Linked DNA regions of Homo sapiens. The protein of the gene in region 3 purifies or fractionates together with the protein of the main gene of each other region. This does not show direct contact. Each region holds a gene or a part of one and is shown on either strand. Other genes may lie near its edges. The genes, in order: LMF1, PALD1 and NXPH3.

Evidence for each region.
Region 1: the proteins of NXPH3 (region 3) and LMF1 purify together in Homo sapiens (affinity purification with mass spectrometry; 2 studies listed by BioGRID and IntAct, with this or other methods). This does not show direct contact.
Region 2: the proteins of NXPH3 (region 3) and PALD1 purify together in Homo sapiens (affinity purification with mass spectrometry; 2 studies listed by BioGRID and IntAct, with this or other methods). This does not show direct contact.

What each region holds. Positions count from the first base shown.
Region 1 is NC_000016.10:967,862-974,930, reverse strand, and holds the start of LMF1 (lipase maturation factor 1), read left to right. Parts: upstream 1-3,946; 5' UTR 3,947-3,950; coding exon 3,951-4,143; intron 4,144-7,069. UniProt on the Homo sapiens protein: Involved in the maturation of specific proteins in the endoplasmic reticulum. Required for maturation and transport of active lipoprotein lipase (LPL) through the secretory pathway. Each LMF1 molecule chaperones 50 or more molecules of LPL.
Region 2 is NC_000010.11:70,474,388-70,481,850, forward strand, and holds the start of PALD1 (paladin), read left to right. Parts: upstream 1-4,379; 5' UTR 4,380-4,672; exon of another isoform or gene 4,673-4,783; intron 4,784-4,810; exon of another isoform or gene 4,811-7,463.
Region 3 is NC_000017.11:49,571,407-49,578,870, forward strand, and holds the start of NXPH3 (neurexophilin-3 precursor), read left to right. Parts: upstream 1-4,464; 5' UTR 4,465-4,813; coding exon 4,814-4,867; intron 4,868-7,189; coding exon 7,190-7,464. UniProt on the Homo sapiens protein: May be signaling molecules that resemble neuropeptides. Ligand for alpha-neurexins.

The DNA.
Region 1 (7,069 bases), on a different chromosome or scaffold from region 3:
GGGCCCCCCTTCCATACCCAGACTTCAGGACATGAAAAATTGGGGTAAATGAAGGGTGCACGATTATCTTCGGGCCCACACTGGCTTCCTGCGGGTGCCAGAGACAGCTGCCACCGCATGCCAGGGACAATGGCCCCGAGGAGGCGGGAGCTGCCAGGCCGGGGTGCTGGGGGACAGCTGGACGAGGTGCCGACAGGGGCTCATTCCTCCCTGAAGCCGGCCCGCAGCTGCTGGGAGCGTGGCCAGCCACGGGCTTGTGTGTGCCTGGGTCCTGGGGGCTGTGCTGGCGCAGGCCGGGACGGCGGGGACAGGGTCCCACCTAGGGCAGGCTGGTCGGTCTCCGGGGAGGCAGCCCAGTCTTCAGCCTGCGTGCTCTTGGGGTGTCCGTCCCTTCCTCCCCATTCTCCTCCTCTTCTCAGCGTCTTCTCCCCCAGCACCGGGCAGCCCTGGGGTGGCCGAGCCTCATCTCCACTCCCCTCCCTCAGGCCTCTCCTGGGTCAGCCTGGCTTTTTCTCTTAGAGTTTTTGCTTGACAGGGCACTCTCAGGACGCCCTCCTCCTCCTCCCGCCTCGGGTTGGTGTGAGGCGCTCAGGGCAGGGCCCACGTGCCTGTGGTCACAGGACACTGAGCTGCAGGGTGAAAGGACCACACCTGGCCGATCTCCCGGCCGCTGCAGCTCACTCTGGGTTTGCAGAGAAGCCTGTTTTTAAGTGAAGTGCCTTCTTAGAGAATAAGACACACCTGTATCTAAATGTTATTTTTAAACTGCTAGATGCGCCTTAATATAGACAAAGAAGTAAGGTGAGCGTAAATGACATGATGTATTCCGACAGGTGACAGCGCCTTCCGGGCGATTCTGAAACACCAGTGCAGGGCTGTCTGTTGTCTTTTGTTTTCATTTTACTTTTTTTTTTTTTTTTTGAGACAGAGTCTCGCTCTGTCGCCCAGGCTGGAGGGCAGTGGCACGATCTCGGCTCACTGCAAGCTCCAGCCCCCGCGTTCACGTCATTCTCCTGCCTCAGCCTCCCGAGTAGCTGGGACTACAGGCGCCCGCCACCATGCCCGGCTAATTTTGTTGTTGTTGTTGTATTTTTAGTAGAGACGGGGTTTCACCGTGTTAGCCAGGATGGTCTCGATCTCCTGACCTCGTGATCCACCCGCCTCGGCCTCCCAAAGTGCTGGGATTACAGGCGTGAGCCCCGGTGCCCGGCCTCATTTTACTTTTCTAAAATTCGAGGCGAAATTCACATAGCATGAAATAAGCCATTTGCCAGTGAACGACTCGGTGTTTAGCACCTCACAGTGCTGGGCAGCCATCGCCTAGTTCCAGAAGATTCTCATCAGCCCAAAAGAAAACGTCCTACCCCCGGACCACTGGCTCCCCACTCCCCGTCCCCAGACCTGGACCACAGAGCTCCCTCCTTTCCCCGTGGCTTTGCCCACCCCGGACATTTCATGTAAATGGGCTCACGCAACTCATGACCTCCGCGTCTGTCCTGTCCCACTGAGCTTGATGTTCTGAGGTTCATCTGTGTTGTAGCACGTGTCAGAACTGGATTCCTTTTTATTTTATGTTTTATTTTAGTGAGACAGAGTCTCGCTCTGTGGCCCAGGCTGGAGTGCAGTGGCGCGATCTAGGCTCACTGCAACCTCCACCTCCCGGGTTCAAGCGATTCTCCTGTCACAGTCTCCCGAGTAGCTGGGATTACAGGTGCCCGCCACCACACCTGGCTAATTTTTTTGTATTTTTAGTAGAGGCGGGGTTTCACCATGTTGGCCAGGCTGGTCTTGAACTCCTGACCTCAGGTGATCCACCTGCCTCGGCCTCCCAAAGTGCTGGGATGACAGGCGCCCGGCTCCTGGATTCTTTTTGATGGCTGAATCATAACCCAGTGCACTTTTGATTAAATTCAGGCTGAAATGGGCACGACCAGAGCTGCTGGTCCACCTCTCCCCGGCCCAAGCCCTGCCCCCGGTGACCTGCTCTGGAGCCATTCTGGGCAGTGGATGGGACCCCTGCGGTCAGCGTCTCAAGAGAGCAGACCCTGAGGGAAACTTGAGCTCAGAGAGAACAGGAGCTCCCAGCAGACCCTTCCGCTGACTGCTCCCACCCTGGGCAAATGCAGAGCCGGAGCCCGGAGCGCTGGAAGCTGGAACAAGAGGCCCTTTTCTGCTCTGCACAATGCCCCATTGTGCCCTTCGCGGGGAGAGCAGCTCGGCCCAGCGAGGGGAAGCTGTGCACAAAGCCTCCTTGTGAGGGCAGCCCCACCTGAGGACAGCGCAGGGCCACACCTGACGCAGGGCAGTCCCTCTCGCCGTCCGTCCCCTAGCAGGCCTGGCACCCAGACAGGGCCCGCTCTGCAGGCGTGGTCCCAGGGTGTGGGGCTCCCTGTTCCCCACAGATGAGGGGAACAGTGTGGGCTGTGCCGGCCCTTCCTAAGCTGGCCCCCAGGTCACGAGGAGAGGTACGGGTCGTGGGCTCTGTGGAGGGACTTGGGTGCCGGGCGCCAGCCAGGGCCGATGCCTCCTGCGATCCCCAAGGCTCCGAGCCCTCAGGCACACACCACGCTCCCGGAGGCTGGGCCAGCATGCGGAGGATGTTTGTGTGTTCGTACCCGTTGCAACATCTTTAACAGGGTCCCATTTCACAGCTGGGCTCCTAAGGGGGGTTTCATAGAAAAGAAATGGAAACTAAAAATGAATTAAACCATAAGATGTACACGTATGCTACGGCCCCAGCAACACAGGGAAGGTGGAGGCTGAGAGGAAGCTCGGGCCACTGCTGGTCAGGCCTGGATTTGGGGGCCCGATGTCCACAGTCAGTCCCTGCCCACACAAGGCTCACACTGCAGGTGGTGAAGATATAATTAAACAGGTAATTAAACAAGCAATAAAGACGGGTCATTTGACCAACCCAGTGGCGATAATTGATACGCCAAAACACTAGGAAAGCTAGAGAGGCAAAAGAGAAGAATACATGAAAACAAAAACAAAAAACCAGGACAAATATTTCCAATATACACAAAAGAACAGGATTTTTCATACGTAAAGAGTGCTGACAAATGAATAAGGAGAAATCTGCACTTCCACCTAAGTGCCCCACAGTTTATTCACTAACCCCTAGGTCTCCAATGCCTACTCTAGCCTCACGCCCTTTCTTTCCTCTAAGGAATGCCTGTGACCCCAGCCCTTCCTAGCACCCGCTTCACATCAGCCTCCAGAACCCCGCTCCAGTCATCAGAGTGTAGAGTGCTGGCGTCCTCCTTCATGTTCTGTTTGGGGCATTGGGCAGTTAGCCCTTCCCTCCTGAGTCCTGAGTCCCCCTCTTCCCCCACAGCTTGAAGTCCAGTCCCAAGGGCAGGCAGGAGCTGGGTTGTGCAAAGGCGGAAGGGTGCTCAGGCTGGGAGAAAGGGGAGGGTCCCCCGAGCATTCCAGGCACAGCCCTGCCTACTCTGTCCCTTGCTGGCTGCGACGATCGCCCTAGCACCCTCCTCCGCAGAGAGTGAGTGTCAGCTGTGAGGCAGGGGCACGCAGTGGTAGCACCGCCAGGGCCTGTGCAGCCCACCTTCCCCAGGACCACAGCTGGGAAGGCGCCTGGCTGGGGGAGGGCACCTGGCCTCTGCAACTCGGACTGACGGAAGGCACGCGTGCCTGCCCCAGTGAGCTCGGGTCGGGCGACGCGCACCACCTCCCAGGTACCCGGCCCCGCGCCCTACCCGCAGCAGCGCCCAGCGAGAACTGCGAAGGAGGCAGGCTCCGGGCACCCGCTCCCGCGCGTGGGCGGGGCCGGCTGGAGGGGGCGGTGCCTCCGGGACTGTGAGCGGGGCCTCCCGGGGTGTGGGTGGGGCCTTCGGCCGTGGGCAGGGCCGGCCAGGGAGAGGCGGGGCCTCCGAGAATGGGCGGGGCCTCCGAGAATGGGCGGGGCCTCCGGGAGTGCGCCCTCCCCGCACATGCGCCCTGACAGCCCAACAATGGCGGCGCCCGCGGAGTCGCTGAGGAGGCGGAAGACTGGGTACTCGGATCCGGAGCCTGAGTCGCCGCCCGCGCCGGGGCGTGGCCCCGCAGGCTCTCCGGCCCATCTCCACACGGGCACCTTCTGGCTGACCCGGATCGTGCTCCTGAAGGCCCTAGCCTTCGTGTACTGTGAGTGCCGGGCGGGCCCGGGACATCCGCCAGTGTCACCTCCGCGCACCACGACCCCCGCCCTCCCTCGAGACTCCTCCGCGCGGTCTCGCGGCCGCGGCGCCCCCACGCAGCCCTCCTTCCTGCTGGGGCCCGGGCAAGGCGGGGCGGGCAGGGCAGGACAAGGCTTGCTGGCGACAGCGCACCCGGCCCTACCCCTGTCGCCGCCTCGAGCCTCCGGCCTGGGCTCCTGGGCTCCCGGTTCCACCCGCAGCCCCGAAGTTGCACGGCCGCGCCTGCCAGGACCGGCTCGGGGCTATGCGAGGCGGGGCCGGCCCGGGCCCTGGCCCAGGAGTTCCCAGGAGAGCTGGGCAGGTGGAGGGTCACCCGTCCGTGCGCAGGTCGGGGGTCTGCGTCCTGGCTGCGGGGCGGGGGGCGGCCTGGAGAGGCGAGGCGCTCCTGCTGTCCCCGACACAGCGCTGTGCTGACGGTGAAGGTTCCCACTGTAACTGGACGCCCGCACGCCACATCCCTGCCGCGTGCGGCCCCTGCCAAAATCCGAGGAGCCGGCCCGGGAGCCTCCTTCGCGTCTCCCAGGGGCTGAGGGAAGGTGACTGGCTGGTGGCCAGACTGGAGTTTCTCCTTTAGTGTTCTCGACTAGCTCAGTCTGCGTTCGGGAAGATTCCCAGCGGAGGTCTGGGGGCAGCTCCGGAACCTCATCTGCAAGTGAAGCCTGCGCCTCACTGTGGGATGTGGTTGGCCGGGTCCACTGGCGGAGACCCTTCACCCCACAGCTGTGCGGGGCCCGCGTGCGCAGCCTACAGAGCAGAGCTCTGAGAAAAGTCAGTTCACGCTCAAAACCTCTGGATCCCCTGGCCAGGGGCAGCTGGCGATTCCAACTCCCTCTCTCCCCAGTCCCTACAACCCAGAACTGGTTTGGAAGAGAACGGTTCTGTGATCACGGTGACATGTGATCACACGGATACATGTTTCATAAGCCCAACGTGTCAGGAGCTACGAACCTCAAGTGAGGCTCTCAAATGAGTATGGAAGTGAGGGGAGCCTGCCAGGCCGAGATGCAGCCAGCGGGGCGCGTGGGCAGTCACCGTCCCAGAGGGCTCCGGAGCTGCTGGCCCCGGGCGTTGCCCACGCGTTGGTTGTAGGCCGTGGGCATTGGACGTCTCCCTTTCCTTCCATCGTCTGCTTCCCTCACGTGTGGAAGGAAAGGGTCAGGTTGCAGAAGTTCTTCTTTGCACAGCCTTTGTGCCACACACGTCGCGGGAAGTTTGGTAGCCTGGTTGTGCTGGAGTGATGCTCAGTTCGACGTTTTGTGTGACATTTGTGTGATACTTTCCACCTCCTGGTGCAAAGTGATGAGACGCGCTCATCACTACAAGGTTTCCTGTGGGATTGCAGTATCGGCTTCAACTGGGTCTGTGTCTCTCTCTCTCTTTCTTTAAAGCAACTATTTTATTTTATTTATTTATTTTTTTCGAGACGGAGTCTCACTCTGTTGCCCAGGCTGGAGCGCAACGGCACCATGTCGGCCCACTGCAACCTCCGTCTCCTGGGTTCAAGCGATTCTCCTGCCTCAGCCTTCCGAGTAGCTGGGATTATAGGCACGCACCACCATGCCTGACTAATTTTTAAAAATATTTTTAGTAGAGACAGGGTTTCACCATGTTGGCCAGGCTGGTCTCGAACTTCTGACCTCAGGGCCTCCCAAAGTGCTGGGATTACAAGCGTGAGCCACTATGCCCGGCCTGCAATTATTTTAAAAAGTAGTTCTTCCCAGGTTGCTTTTCCCTCCACAGTATTAAACAGTCATTTTAAATGTTGGTGCTGTCACTTAGCAAACGATGAAGTAGAGATAAAGTGAAGCTGTGAGGCTCTAATAGGCCTTCCACAGGGGAGCCCGAGATACAGCAGGAAGTCCCAGCGGCCTTGCCTCCGGAGCACAGCTTCATAAAACCAGCTCAGACTCTTTCAAACGAGCTGAGGCTCCTTTGATCTCCGCAGGGATTCTCTGTTCAATTCAGAAGGAACTGCTTTTAAGCCACTGGGTCAAGCGGATATTTTAAGCCTGGTGCCCAGCATTGAACATTTCTCCTTGACATATGCACGTTCTTCTGTCTTGTGAGTACATTTGGGGTAGAATCAGTGTTTTTCTGCTGTATCAAGGAACCAGTTTCCCATCTTTCAGGGACATGGTTTTCTGGCTGAGCTGGCCCAGGGCAAGCAGGCAGTCATCCTGCATTTATCTCCTTCTAGAAAGTTCTGGATTTTACTGGGACTGTGCGCTACTCCCTGTTCCTCAGAATCCCAGGGTTTTTCCAAGTTGCCATAGGGGCTCTCCAAATATTTCACTTGATACTGAATTTTACAATGTTTATAGCTATTGAAACACTTGTAATTAAACACATAACCAAATGTATTCTGTGGAAACTCCCCTTGTTAAAAGACATTGAACTGAGGGAGGCTTACCCTTAGGCAGATTGTCTCAGCAGACATGTAGTAAAGATGTACAGATCAGGAGAACACAGAAACGCCTGCCCTGTCGGGGAAGCTTCGAAGCCAGACCTGGAGAGGCCGGCTGCCAGCGACAGGCCTCTGCATTCAACCTGACTTTGCATCCGTCCTGGGGCTGGCTCCTTCCCACCGCGGGCCTGGGCGTTTCCATGTGCTGCCACCGAGGTGTGTAGGTGCTAGGGGTGTGCTCACTGCACACAGACGTGCATACCGCGGGCGTCCTGGGGTGTCGGGCATGCCCTGCTGTGCTGTGGGAGCCGGAGTGTGTTAGCGGAAAGCGGCATTTTCACAGGGCTCAGAGTTGAAGACACACCTGTCTTCCTGACGTGTGGACTCGGGTCCCTAGTGTGATTACTGCGTTGAGCAGATGCTGAAGTAGCACCCTGCCCGGTGCTGACCTCCTGGTGACAACGCCACT
Region 2 (7,463 bases), on a different chromosome or scaffold from region 3:
CTGTCTCTACTAAAAATACAAAAATTATCTGGGCGTGGTGGCGGGCGCCTGTAATTCTAACTACTCGGGAGCCTGAGGCAGGAGAATTGCTTGAATCCAGGAGGCGGAGGCAGCAGTGAGCCGAGATTGTGCCACCACCACTGCACTCCAGCCTGAGACTCTGTCCAAGGAAGGAAGGAAGGAAGCAGGATGCATCCAATGCAGTAAGGCTAAGCATTTTTTTGTGAATAACACACATTCACATATCTGTGTAGCTGGCCCTGGTGTAAAATGTATTTCTTACTTTGGGTCTTGATAAAAAAAAGGTTTGAACCTTGTGTATGAATTTGGGAGTCGGGGGACGTAATCCTTAGGCTTAGACCCAAAGAAGGATATAATCAATAAAATGAATAATCCTGCCCATAATATGATGCCGATAACTGAACATGTATCCTGCGCCAGATGGGGATGCTCAGGTCCCAGGGCCTGGCAGGGAAGGGAGGGGAAGGATTCCAGAGTGGACAGAGATCCCATGGGCAGATAGGGGAGGAGTCCAAGGCAAATTGCCTGGAGGAGGAACCTGAACTCAGCCTCCAAACACCCCTCTGCCCTGGCAGGTTCAGGGCTAGGTCATGGTGTGAGCTTGGGTGGCAACAGTAATGACAGGAACAGCAGTCATCAGTAAGTACTTGCTGAGTGCCAAGCACCTTTTATCCTCCAGACTTTCCCAGGAAGCAAGAACTGCTCTTTGCATCATTTTACAAATGAGGAGACTTGGAGCAATGTGGTAACTTGTAGCATAGGGGTCACATGGTGGTAAAGTTGCTGTGGCTAGATCCAAGCCCAGGTCTGCCCTGCTTAAAGCCCTTGTCTTTAGGATTGCACACAGAAGGGGGCTGAAAAAGTGGGAGTGCTGGATGCTGGAGATGGGGCAGTGGGCCTGGAAGGGCGGATGGCCAGGGCAGACAGGGGATCCGTCTGTGTTGGGATTCAGGCGTCACGGATGAGTTTGCCTGAGGCTCAGAGACCACTGGGCTCAGGGCGAAATCACAGGCCACAAGACTCCCACCCTGAAGGGTGCACATGATCCCTGTTCTTGGCAGTAAGGTGGTCACAAGGAGCAAGGCCAGCCCATGTCCTGATGTTGTCCACTCCTCAGGTCCAGTGTCCCTCAGCTGTGGCAGATGTCAGGGAAGAGTGGGGAGTAGAGAAGAGCAGCAAGGGCCTGTTTCCCATCTTTGATCAAGATTCATCTTTGCTGGTTTGAACCCAGCTCCTCTGCTTTCCAGCGAGTCATTTGTGCCTGTCAGGAAATCATTTTTGGCTTGAGTGTTCCCTGGAGGGAATCTGGGGTTCCCACAGCTCATGTTTTTGCCCAGGAACTGAACTTGGGAGCTCTCTCCCAAGAGCACCAGCACCTTGCTTGGGCTGATGGGGCAGTGGATGGCCACAGGCGAGTCTGTCGGGGCGTGAGTAACAGGTTACTCATATTCTTTGCAGCAGCAGCTTGTCTGGTTTTGGACGGTTGCAGGTGCTTTGTGTGTGTGCTACACGTACACACACATACACACATGCTCACTTATAAAGCCACACTCACTCCCACTAGACACTTGCACAAACATGGATCCCTGCAAATATGAGTTCACGCACGAGCAATACAAGCATGATAACATGGTGTCTTGGACGTTTGTGTGTGGGGGATGTGGGTGCTGGCAGTGCTGGTGGAGTGCTGGGTGAGTGGGGGTCAGTCCCGACCTCTCTCCTTCCTGAGATCCTGTTCTGGGACCCATGAATCTTTTCTCAGGGGATTTTGGGCTTCTGCTCTGAGCTTCCAGATTTCTCAGGAATCTTCTGCTGCAGTTTGAGAGGCTCAAATGGGCTCAACTGAGAGCTGGCTCGACTGATTCTTTCGTTCTGCCTGGGGCTGGGGAGAGAGCAGGATGCCTTCTCTTGGGTGTACCCAGGGCTGCTCTGTGGCCTTCTCTCCTTCAACATTCAGTCCTTGTTCCCCTCCCAGGCCCACGGTGGGGCAGATCTGACTGAATCTTTCTTGTGGTTGGGACTTTTCTAGCCCCATAGCCAGCAGACAGCCAGGGCTGCAGGACTCGCTATTCTGAGTAGGGACTTGGCAGGCCCTCTGGGGGGCTGGTGGTGGGCTGGTGAGGCTGGGCACTGTGGTTTGGATGCAGTCTGTGGCCTGACCCTGAGGAACCTCCAAGCCCTCAGCCCCCTACCTACCAGCTGAACCCTGAGGCTAACTGTTAGATCCAGAAGGGTTGTGACTGCAGGCTGTCCTGAGAACATCTTTGTCCTGGGCTTTTCTGCTTGGTTCAACAAGAACACCTACTGTGTGTGTGGTGAGTACAAATGAATGTATGGAGACGTGCCAGGCACTGTGCTGTGGGCCAAAAGACAGGTCAGGCACAGGTAGGACATAGCTTTTGTTCTCTGGGAGCTAGAGAGGCACACCGCCGTGGATCCCAGCATCTGCTGGGCAGGGAGGGTGAGGGGAAGCAAAGTGTGTGTATTTGTATGTGTGTATTATGTGCATATGTGTATGTGCTATGTTTCTGTATGTATATATGTGTGCATGCATCCCTATAGGTATGCATGTTTATGTATATATTTGTATACATATATGTGCATGTATGTGTATACATGTGTGCATACACATGCACATGTATGTAAATGTATATTTTGCACCTGCTCACACACATGTTGCTCCTACCTTAGTCCTGGCCTAGAAGAGGACATTATCCTGGAATGCATCCTCAGGATGGCAGGCTTCAGCTGGGGAGTCTGACAGCTGGTGGGATGGGATATGGGGCTGTGGCAAGAGGAAGAAGGAAGGAAACTGTGGCCCAGGATGGAGTCCTAAAGTGTGCCACACACGATGCCTGGACATTACTTGCCCAGCTCACTGGCTTCTCAAATACCTCTTTGAAGGAGGATGAAGCCATCTTATGGATGTAGAAGTTGGGAATCTGAGAACTTACGTCACTTTTCCCAGACCACACAGCCAGTAAATTGTGAGCCACTTTGAGCCTAGCTCTGCTGAACTCTGAAGGTCAGGTCTGTTTCCCAAGGCCACTATGGGATTTTCTCTGCTGCTGTCCTTTTCACACACCTTGGGTGGCGCAGGAGCAGGTATGGAGCTGAGGACAAGTCTTCCCTGGGCCTGTTTCCTCATTTGTTAAAATAGGGATCAGAAAAGTACCGACCTTATAACTTCGCGAGGCACTTAAGAGCTAGGTGCTAGGGACATGGTGAGACCACCACAATGAGTGATTTCTCTTGTCTTCAGTTATTCTTAGGGGTCATGGGGAATGTGTTCCCCTCTCCCAGCCCAGCGCTCTCCAGCCTGACAGAGGTGGGGCCTACACTGCCTGCATCCTGGGGCAACCCCAGCTCGCCGAAATCCAGCTCCAGTCCTGAATGGGGGTGAGGCAGGTGGTAACAGGTGAGAAAAAAGGATTTCCCGAGTGTGGAGCAGCGAGAGGGAGGAAGTGACTCACCAACCACAACAAAGCCTATCTCTCCGCGAGGAAGCACAGCGAAGAGTGAACGCACGCACGTGGGTGCGTTCACCCACGTGCTCGCGGGGGCGTGCGGGGCCGTCGGAGTGGGCCGGGCTGGCTGCCGCCTAGTGCTAGTCCGCGCGTGTGGGGTGAGGAGTGGTGGGGGGGGCAGGCCTATGGTGCGGGTCACTGCCTGGAGCCGCATGATGGGTGGGGGCGGAGGGACCCCTCTCCATCCAAAGCTCTGCTCTGCTGTTCCCCTCTCACCTCTGGGGGCCGAGGGGCGCGTTTCCTTAGGACCCCGGGGCGTGGGAGAAGCCCCTGCTTGGGGGGACCGTCTGCTGTTTAGGGGCTCCCCTTCGACACGTGGGAGGCAAAAGTGCAGAGCGCACCATCATCCAGCTCCGGCCGCACTGCACAGCGAGGCCGGCCCGGAGCCCGGATGCTGGGCTCGGTCCCGCCGAGGCTCGGCCTGGCTGTAAAGCAGAGGGGGGCGAGGGAAGCCGGGCCAGCGGGTGTCGCGGGTAGCCGGCGTCCGGGACGGGGTGTGGCGCCCAGAGCGCTGCTGCCTCTCGCAGCCAGGAGGCTGGATGTCGGGTTTGGGTGTCTTCCAGAAGGAGCCGCACTAGCGACGAGGGAAGAGGAACTGGCTTCCCGGGCAGTCTCCCCCGCCCCAAACTTTTCCTCCTCGCGGAGGGTGGGCGGGCGGAGGGAGGAAGCGCAGCCGGGGAACGTGGCGCCCGCGTTCCTCCCGCCCGGGGGCTGCGGCTGGGCTGAGTGTGTCTTTAAATCTGAGCCCCCCGCCCCTCGCGGTGGGGCCGGGACTCGCGGTCCGGGCGGGGGCGGGCGCGGTGATTGGCGGCCGGGTCGGGTCCGCCCCTCGGCGTTGGGTAGCGGGGCGCTGGGGAGCAGCGCGGCGCGCACGGGCCGGGGCGCGCAGGTCCCGTCGCCGGTGAGCACGGGCTCCCTCTCGCGTGGCCTCGCCGGGTCCGCCTGGCCTGCCCACCTCCGGAGCCACCTCTGCCCCCGCATGGGCTGGCGAAGTTGGGAGGAGCGAGCTGGAGCCAGAGCGCGCGCCGGGCGCGCCCCGTCGCTGCCTGACTCGGCGCCCGCAGTTCGGGCGCAGCACGCCGGCCGCAGGAGCACGGATGCCCCCCGGAGCCGCGGGCTGGCAGGTACCGAAGTGTCCTGCCCTGGGGCTGGCGAGGGGAGGGCAAATCTGGAATCCCCCGGGCACCCCCCAGCCCGAGGCTGCTCCAGACACCAACTCCCCATCCTTTGGAGAGGTGAGGTCCTGGGCCTTCACCCCACACCCGCTCAGGATTGGTCCCTGGGAGGCAAGAGGGACTCACAGGGAGCAGTTGCTGGGTGGTTGTGTGTGTTGGACCCTGGGCTACCCCCTCTCCCGAGTTCCCTGGGTTTGGTGTAGGCATGGCCTGGTGACAATTCCACTTTTCATTGCCAGACCTGGGAGCATGGCCAGGAGCTAGGGTTTCCCGCGAAGTTAGGGGGAGATTGGGGAGAGGGAAGCCGCTTCATGACCGAGATGGGGTCCTGGGACTCATCTCTAGGGGGCGTGAGGCCCTCAGACCCAGGACGAGTCCAGAAGTCTCAGCGGGCACAGGCTTTGATTCTTGGCCCAGTCTGGCCCTCTTCCTCTGTAGGCCCGGGTCTCCAAGGAGAGTACGTTTTTCAGTTTCAGAGGGTTTTCCTGAAGGGGCAGTAACCTGTCAGAGAGAGAGTGGCCTATGGGAGACCCGGCTCCTGAAGGTGGCCGGGATGGTTGGAGCCCTTTCTCTTGGGTTGTCAGAGATGGGAGTAAAGCTTCATGGCCCAGGGAATCTTCTGGGCATCTCTACTCTCCCAGCCAGAGGCCCAGGAACCAACTCCTTGGCTTCTGGGTAGAGTAACCTGAACCCAGTGGCCGAGCACCTCTTAAATGCCAGGAAGGGCACTGGGCCGTGCCCCTGGAATGTGTGGATGGAGGAGGATTTGGAGGATTCTGTCCTCAGGAGGCTCAGCCCCTGGGGGCAAGACAGGACATAAACACACAAAGTTCCCCGATACAGGGTTTCAATACCAGTCCTGAACTGGTAATAGTGGAAAGCCAAGAGGCTACACACCATTAATTGCTATGTGAGTAATGTAGGCTGCGAGAGTGCCAGGGCAGCAGAGATCCAGTTCCATGCAAGCAAGCAAATGTGCTGAAATGTTCCAGCTCCATGCCCGCCCTTCCTTATTACCTTGCTCCAAGGGCAGGGAGCAGCAGGGGCGCTGAGGAGGTTCTCCTGCACTCATCCCCACCCACTCCCAGGTTTGTTTGTTTCCTGCTGGTGGATTTCTGAAATAACCCATTTGGTTTCTTGGCTTGGGCTGAGCACAGGACACTCCTAGTTGCCCTGTGGCTCCTGGGGTTTGGGGTCTAGAGCCAGCCTTGTAGGAGGTTCAGAGGTAAGCAGGAGGAAGTCCTCACTTCCTTTCTGAAGAGCCTCTGTCGCGGGGGGTTGGGGTAGGTCGGGAGGCTGGCAGGCACTGGGCCAGTTTCCTATGAGTGCAGACAGACCCCAGGTGGTGCATGCACCCCCCTCCCTTTCCTGGCCAGTGTTGGGGGTGGGCACAGTAGGGCCCAGGTGGCTTGAGGTGGGTGGTTCCTGGCACAGCTCTGACCTCACTTCTGTGAGGCTCTGCTGTATCTGGGGCCCTGCCCCCTCCCTCATTGTCCCTGGCAGGTTTCTGTTTTTCTGGAGCACTTCGTGGAGGTGGCAGTGTGCTCATGCTCGTGGCCTTGGGTGCAGTTCTGGGAGTGGGAGTTGCTGAGCTCACCCGAAGCCCTTGGCTGGCACTGTGAGAACTTGTGTGAACACACTTGCCTGCCTCCAAACAGGTGGTGCACAGACCTGGGTTACCCAGGCACCTGTGGGGGATGCCCCGTGTGGGCAGAGACGTGAGTGCGTGTGTGTGCTCAGGTTTACATCTGTGTGGGCAGAGACGTAGAGGAGCTGGATACATATATACTTGAGGACAGACACAGGAGGATGGTGGGGGTGAGCAAACAACCCAGGGACACAGACATGTGCGGGGACAGACATACATGAACCCATCAGCGTGGGCCACGTATGGGCTGCAGACACGTACATAGAAATACACCATTGCTGGGATCTGAATCTCCCCACATGGGAGGCAGACATGTAAGTGGACAGACATATAGGTAGACCCAGCAGAGCACAGACGGGGATGGGAACCGACATTCCCAGACAAAAGACTCGGAGCCACAGGGAAGCCGCTCAAGTGCCTGGGCAGAATGGAGTTGGCTGTGAGCTCCTGGGGGGCACAGACACATATGCTTGCCAGAGCCAGCGGACAGCAGAGGCCAGGAACCAGACACAGGTGGGTTCTGAGAGGTAGGCCGAGGCGTGCATTGCCTGGTTATCACTGTTTCCCTGCGTGGCACAGTGCCCGGAAGTTGTCCTGTTTGGGGTGGTGATGGTACAGGTGCTCTGTGGTGGAGCTTATTTCTAGACTCTCACTTTGGGGTTTGAGGACCCCAAAAAGCTCAGTCTCCTGTGTTTTACTCAGAGTCATTTGGCCTCTCCACCTCTGCATTACAAGGCTGTGTTTGTGCCTTAAGTGCCAGCAGGTGCTCTTTGAATTTTGATTCTCATCTTCCCTGGATCTCCAGAGGCTTCCTGAAGTGAGGCTGTGTGGCCTGGGTAGGGTGCTCCAACTGTTCCTTTCCTACCAGAATAGGAGAGGAACTGTCTGGGGATTCTCCTTCTGAACCCAAGCCTGCGGGTCTTTGACAGGGATCCCCCAGGTGAGAGAGAGAGCACACATGTAGCTGCGTCTGTGATGAGAGCCACTGCCCTCTGGGGCGGGCTCCTTCTCTGCTAAGCCGTGGGCTTGCACAGGGAAGGGGTCCCCCACCTGGCTATGCTCAGGTCTCCTCTGCCCAACCTGGCACCTGAG
Region 3 (7,464 bases):
CCAAACCCTTAGCTAGACCCGTAAAGCCCTGCATGGTCTGGCCCCTGCCACCTCTCTGGCGGTGTTGTGTCCCTCTCCCCCCACTCACTAAGCTCAGCTCCCTTCAGCTCCTCCAAAGCACCAAGTTCTTCCTAGGCTCACGGTCTCAGCAGGTGCAGCCCCTCTGTCCAGCTCTTCATCCTTTAGATCCCAGCTGAAAGGTCACATTCTTGCAGAGGCATTCCCTGACCCCTCCCAGGTAAATTAGGATCCCTCCTTAGTTTCTCTCTTGTTTGGAATTTGCTGTTCTTCTTCCCCCGTACCTCTTGCCAACACATCTCAGAGCTTATGTTTTCATGTGCTCAGTTATTTAATGTCTGTCTCTCCCATAGCCCAAATTCTCCATGCAAATAGGACTGCAGTCTCCCCTGTCCACACTGTACCTCCACACCAGCCCAGGACCGGACATAAAAGTAGACACTTGGTAAGTATTTGTGGAACAAATGAATCTTTCATCTCGTCCTCATCAGAACCCCATTCCCAGGCTTTCTTTCATCTCTGGCCTTTGCAAGAGTTGCTTCCTCTGCCTGGAAGGTTCTTTCCATTCCCTCCCACCTGGGCAGATCCACACGTCATTTAAGATTAATCTCTCTGCAATCTGTCCATCGCCCCCTCATTTGAATTAGGGTTTCCCTCCAGGCCCCCTTGGAACCCTATACATAGCACTCTATCCTAACACTTTAAAATTGCAAATTGCCTGCTAAACATGAGAGATTAACAACAATAATGATCTATCTACTCTTGCCTCTCCCCCAGACCTCTCCACTGCAGCTAGCTCAAGGGCATCACTCTCTCTGCCTTTCAAGCCATTAGGAACCCCATTTCCCATTCATTCATGAGGCACTGCTCAGGTGCCCACTGTGTCGCGTTGTTTTCCTTCCGGCAGCACTGGGGAAGCATGGAGGAAGGAAGCAGTGTAGATAGGATTCTTCCAAGGGTGAGAGGGAAGCAGGTGAAAGCATCAGAGGTGCTCAGCAAAAGCCCAGCCACCCCCATCCAGGGTGCAAATGGGTGCAGGGAAGGCTGGAGGCAGAGGGGTGGACCTAAAGTGCTCAGTTCTGCCCCCTTCACTGAGCACCTGGTGTGTGCAGGGCATGGCTGGGGAGAGGGGTGAGGAATATGGAGAGGTGCACCTGAATGGCAGACACATCACCTCTAGCACAGCTGTTAGTGTGCTTGGTACACAGAGTTTACTGTGTCTTGGATCTGTCTTCCCACGCTGGGAGTAGCTGGAGGGCCCAAGGTTGGGTACAGTTGTTGTCAAACCTCAGCCAAACCTAGTGGTCACTTTTCTGTCTCTCCCTTGCCAGGTCACTCTGCTGTGGCTCATTCCCCTCTTCCTGACACTCCCCACACCCAGATCTAGAGGCCACCTTCATCAGCATCACCTGGGTAGGGGCAGGAGCTTATATAATATGTAGTCCTCGGTTCCTGTCTACCAACTAAGGCTCCCTGGGGATGGGACCCCAGAATCTGCATGATGCACACTCCGCACTGTGTCCACTCTGCTTGGCACCTTGAGCGTGAGAACCCCACTTCTCCAGTGGCTTCGGGATCAGCCCCACCTGTCCTCCTAGCCCCTGGCTCCCTGTTCCTCCCTGGAATCCTCTGGGGGTTCTTTTCCTCTGACCACCTTACCTTAAATGCCAGGGTGCCCAGTGCTCCTCTGGCACCCTCCATACCTCTAGCACCCCAGGCTAGACTTTCTCCTGCCCTTGGGTGGCCGACAGCACCCAGACTTGACATGGCGAAAGCTGACCCTCCCACCCTCACCACAGACCCCATCCCTCTCCTCCCATCTATGGTACCCACCTCATCAACTAGCCAGCCTGTTGCTCAAGCCAGGGAACTGGGTGTCACACCTGACTCCTTCTCTCCCTTCCTGCCTCACCACAGCAACAACCAAATCCTGATCATTTTGCCTCCTAAAGATGCCTTCAGTCTCCCTGCCCCCCACCCCCAAACCACTGCATTTGTCTCCTAATGATTTCCTCTCCTCTCCCTCCCTCTAGTCCAGGGAATTCTCCAAAAGCTTTTAAAATGCAAATCTAACTATAATCACAGCCCCCTTAAAATCCTTCAAAGATTCCTCATAAACAAAGATCTCAACCCCTTGACCCTCCATCATCTGGTCCCAGCCTCCCCTCCTCCCGCTCTGTGCTCCCTGAACAGCAAACTGCTTCCAGTTCCAGCCTCCAGACCTTTAGTCATTCAGTGCCCTCTGCCAGGAATAGCCCTTGCCAGACAGGCTCTTCCTCACAACTGCAGTATCACCTCCTCCAGGAAGCCATCTCTGACCCTCTCGCCCCTGCCCCCAGCTTCCTCAGTGCATCCATATGCCTTCCTTGTTCAAGGATCTGTTATTCCACTCACCATACTGAGTTACAATTATCGATTTTCATGTCTCTGTTCCACACTTGCCGATGAGATCCTTGAGGGCAGGGAGGGTGTCCCATTCATCTCTATCTCAACCCCTGGCCTGGCGCCTGGCACGGCGGACAGGCTCGGCCAGTGGGTGATGGATAAATGCGGAGGGGAAACTTGAACAAAGTGAGAGCCAGAAATGACCAAGAGGGGAGTAAGGGCAAGCCTGGCAGGAGGAGCAGCCGGAGCAAATGTGTGGGAAGTGGAGGAGCGAGAACTTCCGTTTACTGCACTCCTACGACTGCCCACCAGCCATTGTGCCTGCGCTTTGTTTGCACATTTTGTCTCATTTGGTTCTTGCAAGAACAGATCAGGAAACGGACATCAGAGAACCAAAGTAACCTGCCCAAGGTCACACAGCCAGGTCTGGAACAGAATCTGGGACTGTCTGGCCTGAAAACCTGTGCTCTTTCTGCTGGGCCACACAGCTCTCCTAGGGACAGGACCTTCTGGAAACCAGACAAGGAGTGGGCCCAGCTACGCCCCTGCCTAGCTGAGCGCCGGAACCAGCTGCCCACACTCAGGCCAACAGCTTCTCCCTCCCAGCCAGACCAGAGGCTTAGAGGCCAAACAAAGATTTGCCTGTTCCTGCCTCCCCGGCTTTGGGGGGGTCTTTGACTAGACATGCACGCCACCACCCACCCCACCCCCCACCAACACCAAGAAAGAGCTGTTGCATCTTGGTATGGCCCAGGGTGCCTGGAAATGCAGGGGGCTCTGTGATGCTGTCTGGGTTTTGCAGAATCTGTCTCCCTCATCGCACTTGGCCCAGGCTGATATTAAGATTCATCTGCATTCCCCGCGCACCCGCCTGGCAGATGGTGGGGGAGGAGGCTGGGTGCGTGCCGGGGTTGCAGCCACGGGACCAAGCTGGGCCTTGGAGGGCCACAGAGCAGAGTGCCCACCCACCGTGCTCCTTGGGCCCAGCCCAAGCTGGGACCACTTCAAATGATGGGGTGCCTCCTCACCTTCATAGCCTCCAAGGGATGCCAGGACTTGACCTTTCATTTTTCTACAGACTAAAGGGACCCTGGAATTCCAGGAGGGAGACCTGAAGATATGGAGTGGGGGTGATGGAGGATGGGCCCCCATCTTTGGGAATCTCAGATCAGGGTCGTGTTCTTCCTCCTTGCCCTGGAGGTTTGCAGAGACCCCACTGGGACAGGAGCCACTCTCGGCCTGGTGACCCCTGTGGCATAGAGAGGGTAAGTAGTGAATAATGAAGGGACAGGCTCCAGGAAGGCCTTGCTCCCCTCACTCTCCAGCTTCTCAGGACCTGCCCCCGGCCCCAGAATCTAGCCTGGCCCCTAACAGCCTTTTCAGCCCAGGGGCCCAGCCAAATACTTCCTGTCACAGTGGCTGGACCGAGAAGGTCCAGGGATTATCTCAGCCCCTCCAAGTAAAGTAGAAGAGGGAAGGAGCAGACATCATAACAAAAGGAGTGCAGGCTAGACACCCAGAAGGACTTCCCTCAGCACAGGTTTTGGCTCTTAGAATGGGTTTTTTAAAAAAAGGATCTTTCTTAATTCCAGGACTCCTGAGTTGGGGGCAGGGCAGCCGATTCTTGCTGCCCGCTCCCGGGGAACGGGCGCCCTGCAAAAGAGGTGGAAACGGTAGGGTCCGTATCCCCTGGCCACCACCCTCTCCCTTCCTCTCCAAGAGCTACTCCGCCCCCGCGTGCCGTCCTCTCCTGGCTGGAGAGCCGGCGTCCTAGGTCCCCGGGCTGCGGGCCGGCAGGGGAGGAGTTAACTCCGGAGGTACCGGCTGGGCTCACTGTACCTGCCGCCGCCGCCGCCGCCGCCGGTGGGAGGGACGAGGAAGCGGGAGCCGCCTGGGCGCCAGGAGCGCTCTAGTCTGGCGGGGCGCAGCGCAGCGCGGGGAGCGGGCGGCCGGGGCTCCGCGCGGCTGGGGGCGTCCGCCAGGGGGCGCGCCGCGACGGGGCGGGTGGAGCAGCCTGGTTTGGGGAATTAGCACCAAGGACGGGCGCGCGCGCAGGTCCCCAGCACATCTGGGCGAGAGCGGCGCCGCTGGAGCCGAGGGGGGCGCCGAGCGCAGATCTGGAGCAGCAGAGCCACGGCGCAGCTGGGGCCCTTCGAGGCGCTCGGGGCGCACATCTGGGACCTCGAGCGGGGGCCGTGCCGCGCGCAGCTGGACCAGGGGAGGGGGGCGGCGGCTGCACAGCTGGACCGAAGGGGGCGGGGTCGGCCCTGGGCGACCCGCTGAGGGGAGGGCCGCGGGCCGCCGGGGACTGGAGCATGGGACGGCGCGCCTGAAGGAGCAGGAAGGGGAAGGAGGCCTGGGACCCCGAAAAGAGAAGGGGAGAGCGAGGGGACGAGAGCGGAGGAGGAAGATGCAACTGACTCGCTGCTGCTTCGTGTTCCTGGTGCAGGGTAGCCTCTATCTGGTGAGTGGTCCGAGGGGAGCTGCGCAGAGGGGCGGGGGCCCGGAGGATCGGGGGAGAGCGCGGGAAGCTTGCGAGCCCTGAAACTTTCTCCCTTCCCCCGACATCCCGGGGATGGCGGGGAAGACTGGAGGCTGGGGGAGAGGGCGGGTCCGAGGCCGGAGACTGGACAGATAGGGTTAATAGGGGCGGGGAGAGGGTGCTTGGCTGGCCCACCCACTCCGCAGCGGGTGGCTGGAGGTGCGACCAGCGCTCGGAAAAAGGCCTGGAGCCGGGTCGCCAGGGTTACCCTACCCCTTCCCAGAGCCTCAGGACCGCTGAAGCCGGGGGCGAGTGGGGCGCGGGTCGTGGAGCTGGTGACCTGCAGGCTTTTCCCCTGACCTCTGGGACTCAGAGAGCCTCGGGTTCTGGGTCCCCCAGAGCACAGAGCCGGTCCAGGCGGGGGGCGGCCCCCGCGTCCCTCCCCTCCCGCCTTCCCTCCCGCTCCCTCCCTCCCCGCCTGTTGTTTTCCTCTGCTCTCCCGGCTGCGCGCAGCCGGAGCCCCACAGGACTTGGGCAGGCGGCTCCCGCCCCAGGCACTCGCGGCAGCTGAGCGGAGCGCCCAGAGCCCGCTCCCCGTGCGCCGGCTCCGCGGCTTCTCGGCGACCCAGGGCGCCGGGGATCCCCTCCCCGAACCCAGCCCGTGGCTTAACTCCCCTCCGACCGAGCGCCCGCTGACCCTCCCCGCAATACTGTCGTGAAGCCTCAGCCCCACATCTGGACCTGCCCCTTTAATCAACAAGCCCCTTGCCACCGCCCCATGCCACTGTGGGAAGAGCCCTTCCCTTCTCACGGCCCCACCTTTACCCTCCAGCCACTCAGCCGTGACCCTCAGGAGCAAGTACCTACAGGTCTGCAGCCCTAGACCCAGACCCCGAGCCTCCCGTCCTAGCCGTCCCTCTACCCCACCTCTGGGGCCTGGCAGTCAGGGCCAGCCTGAACTGTGGGGCAGAGACAGACTCGGCCACAGCACACAGCTGCCGGCAACACCCAGGCCAGAACACAGGCATGAGGACCCCACAGCCCCTTGGAACCCTACTGTCCCCACCCCAGTGTCACCACCAAATCCAGATGCCCCCCGGTGCTGGTAGTAAAGACACCTAGGGCAAGTGGTTGCTTTCAAAAGCTGAGCAAACCCACAGCCAGGCTGCGCCTCAGGAAGCCCTGTCAACCCCCTGATGCCCCCCACTGCTGTCCCACTCTCCCTGTGGCACCTCCAGGAATCTCCCAGGTGTGGGTTGTCACCACAGCTGATCCAGCAGAGGGAGGATGAGCCCCTGCAGATTCCAGAGGCGGATGGCGCCTGGATAAAAACCCTTTCAAAAAGACACATCTGATCTGTGAGGCCAGGAGTGTGGAGTGTAAAGGAAGGGCTGACCCTATGTGAACTCAGCCTTGTAGTGTTGTAATCTCTGAGCCCCAGTGTCCTTATCTGTGAAATGGGAATAAGAACTCCTACCTCAGAATGCAAGTAACATCGTGGCATGTCATCATCAGTGTACCCTGGAGAGGTGTTTGGCTTTCCATTCCCATGGCCATCCTGGGTGTGGCATTCACTCCGGGTCTCCCCTAGTTCTCTTGCCAAACCTAAACTATATTCGTGCTTGAGAATTACACTGTGTTCTGCTTTCTTATTCCATTGTCTGGTGGTTCTCTTTGCATCTAAGGGTAGAAATTATCCTAGGGTAGGGACGGTGTCTTACCCAACAGACTAGGAAGTCCCAAAAGGCAGGGGCTGGCCTCTCCTGTCAAACCAGGGGCTCTCCCAGGATAAGAATGGTGCTTCCCTGTCTGACTCGGGGCTGTTTCAGAGCAGAGATTATGCCTCCCCCATCAGCCTGGGGATTTCACAGAGGCAGGGATTCTACTTCCTATCAAATTGGGGGCTCTGTCAGCACAGGGATGATGCTTCTGCAATTAGATGGGGGCTCCCCAAGATCAGAAGCTGGGCTTCCCCCATCAGACTGGGGACTCCCTAGGGGTAGGAGCCGTTGTCCCTGGTGCCACAGTTCACTGGAGAGAATTATTGTCGGTCTTTGAGACTTTGAATTTGAATAGTGGCCAAGACAGTGAGGAAAGGACAATGGGGGGGGGGGTGACCCAACTGTCAGAACCTGAGATGTACACAAGCTAGAGTGTACACTTGCCCCCCAGCTTCAGTGGGCAAGACGCAGGAGCTCCTCACCCAGGTCAGAGTGAAGTGGCAGGGACAGGGGTACTGCTGGTAGCGGGGGTGGTGGACCTCCAGGGACAGGGCTCTCACTGTACTCACAACTCCCTCCATAGGTCATCTGTGGCCAGGATGATGGTCCTCCCGGCTCAGAGGACCCTGAGCGTGATGACCACGAGGGCCAGCCCCGGCCCCGGGTGCCTCGGAAGCGGGGCCACATCTCACCTAAGTCCCGCCCCATGGCCAATTCCACTCTCCTAGGGCTGCTGGCCCCGCCTGGGGAGGCTTGGGGCATTCTTGGGCAGCCCCCCAACCGCCCGAACCACAGCCCCCCACCCTCAGCCAAGGTGAAGAAAATCTTTGGCTGGGGCGACTTCTACTCCAACATCAA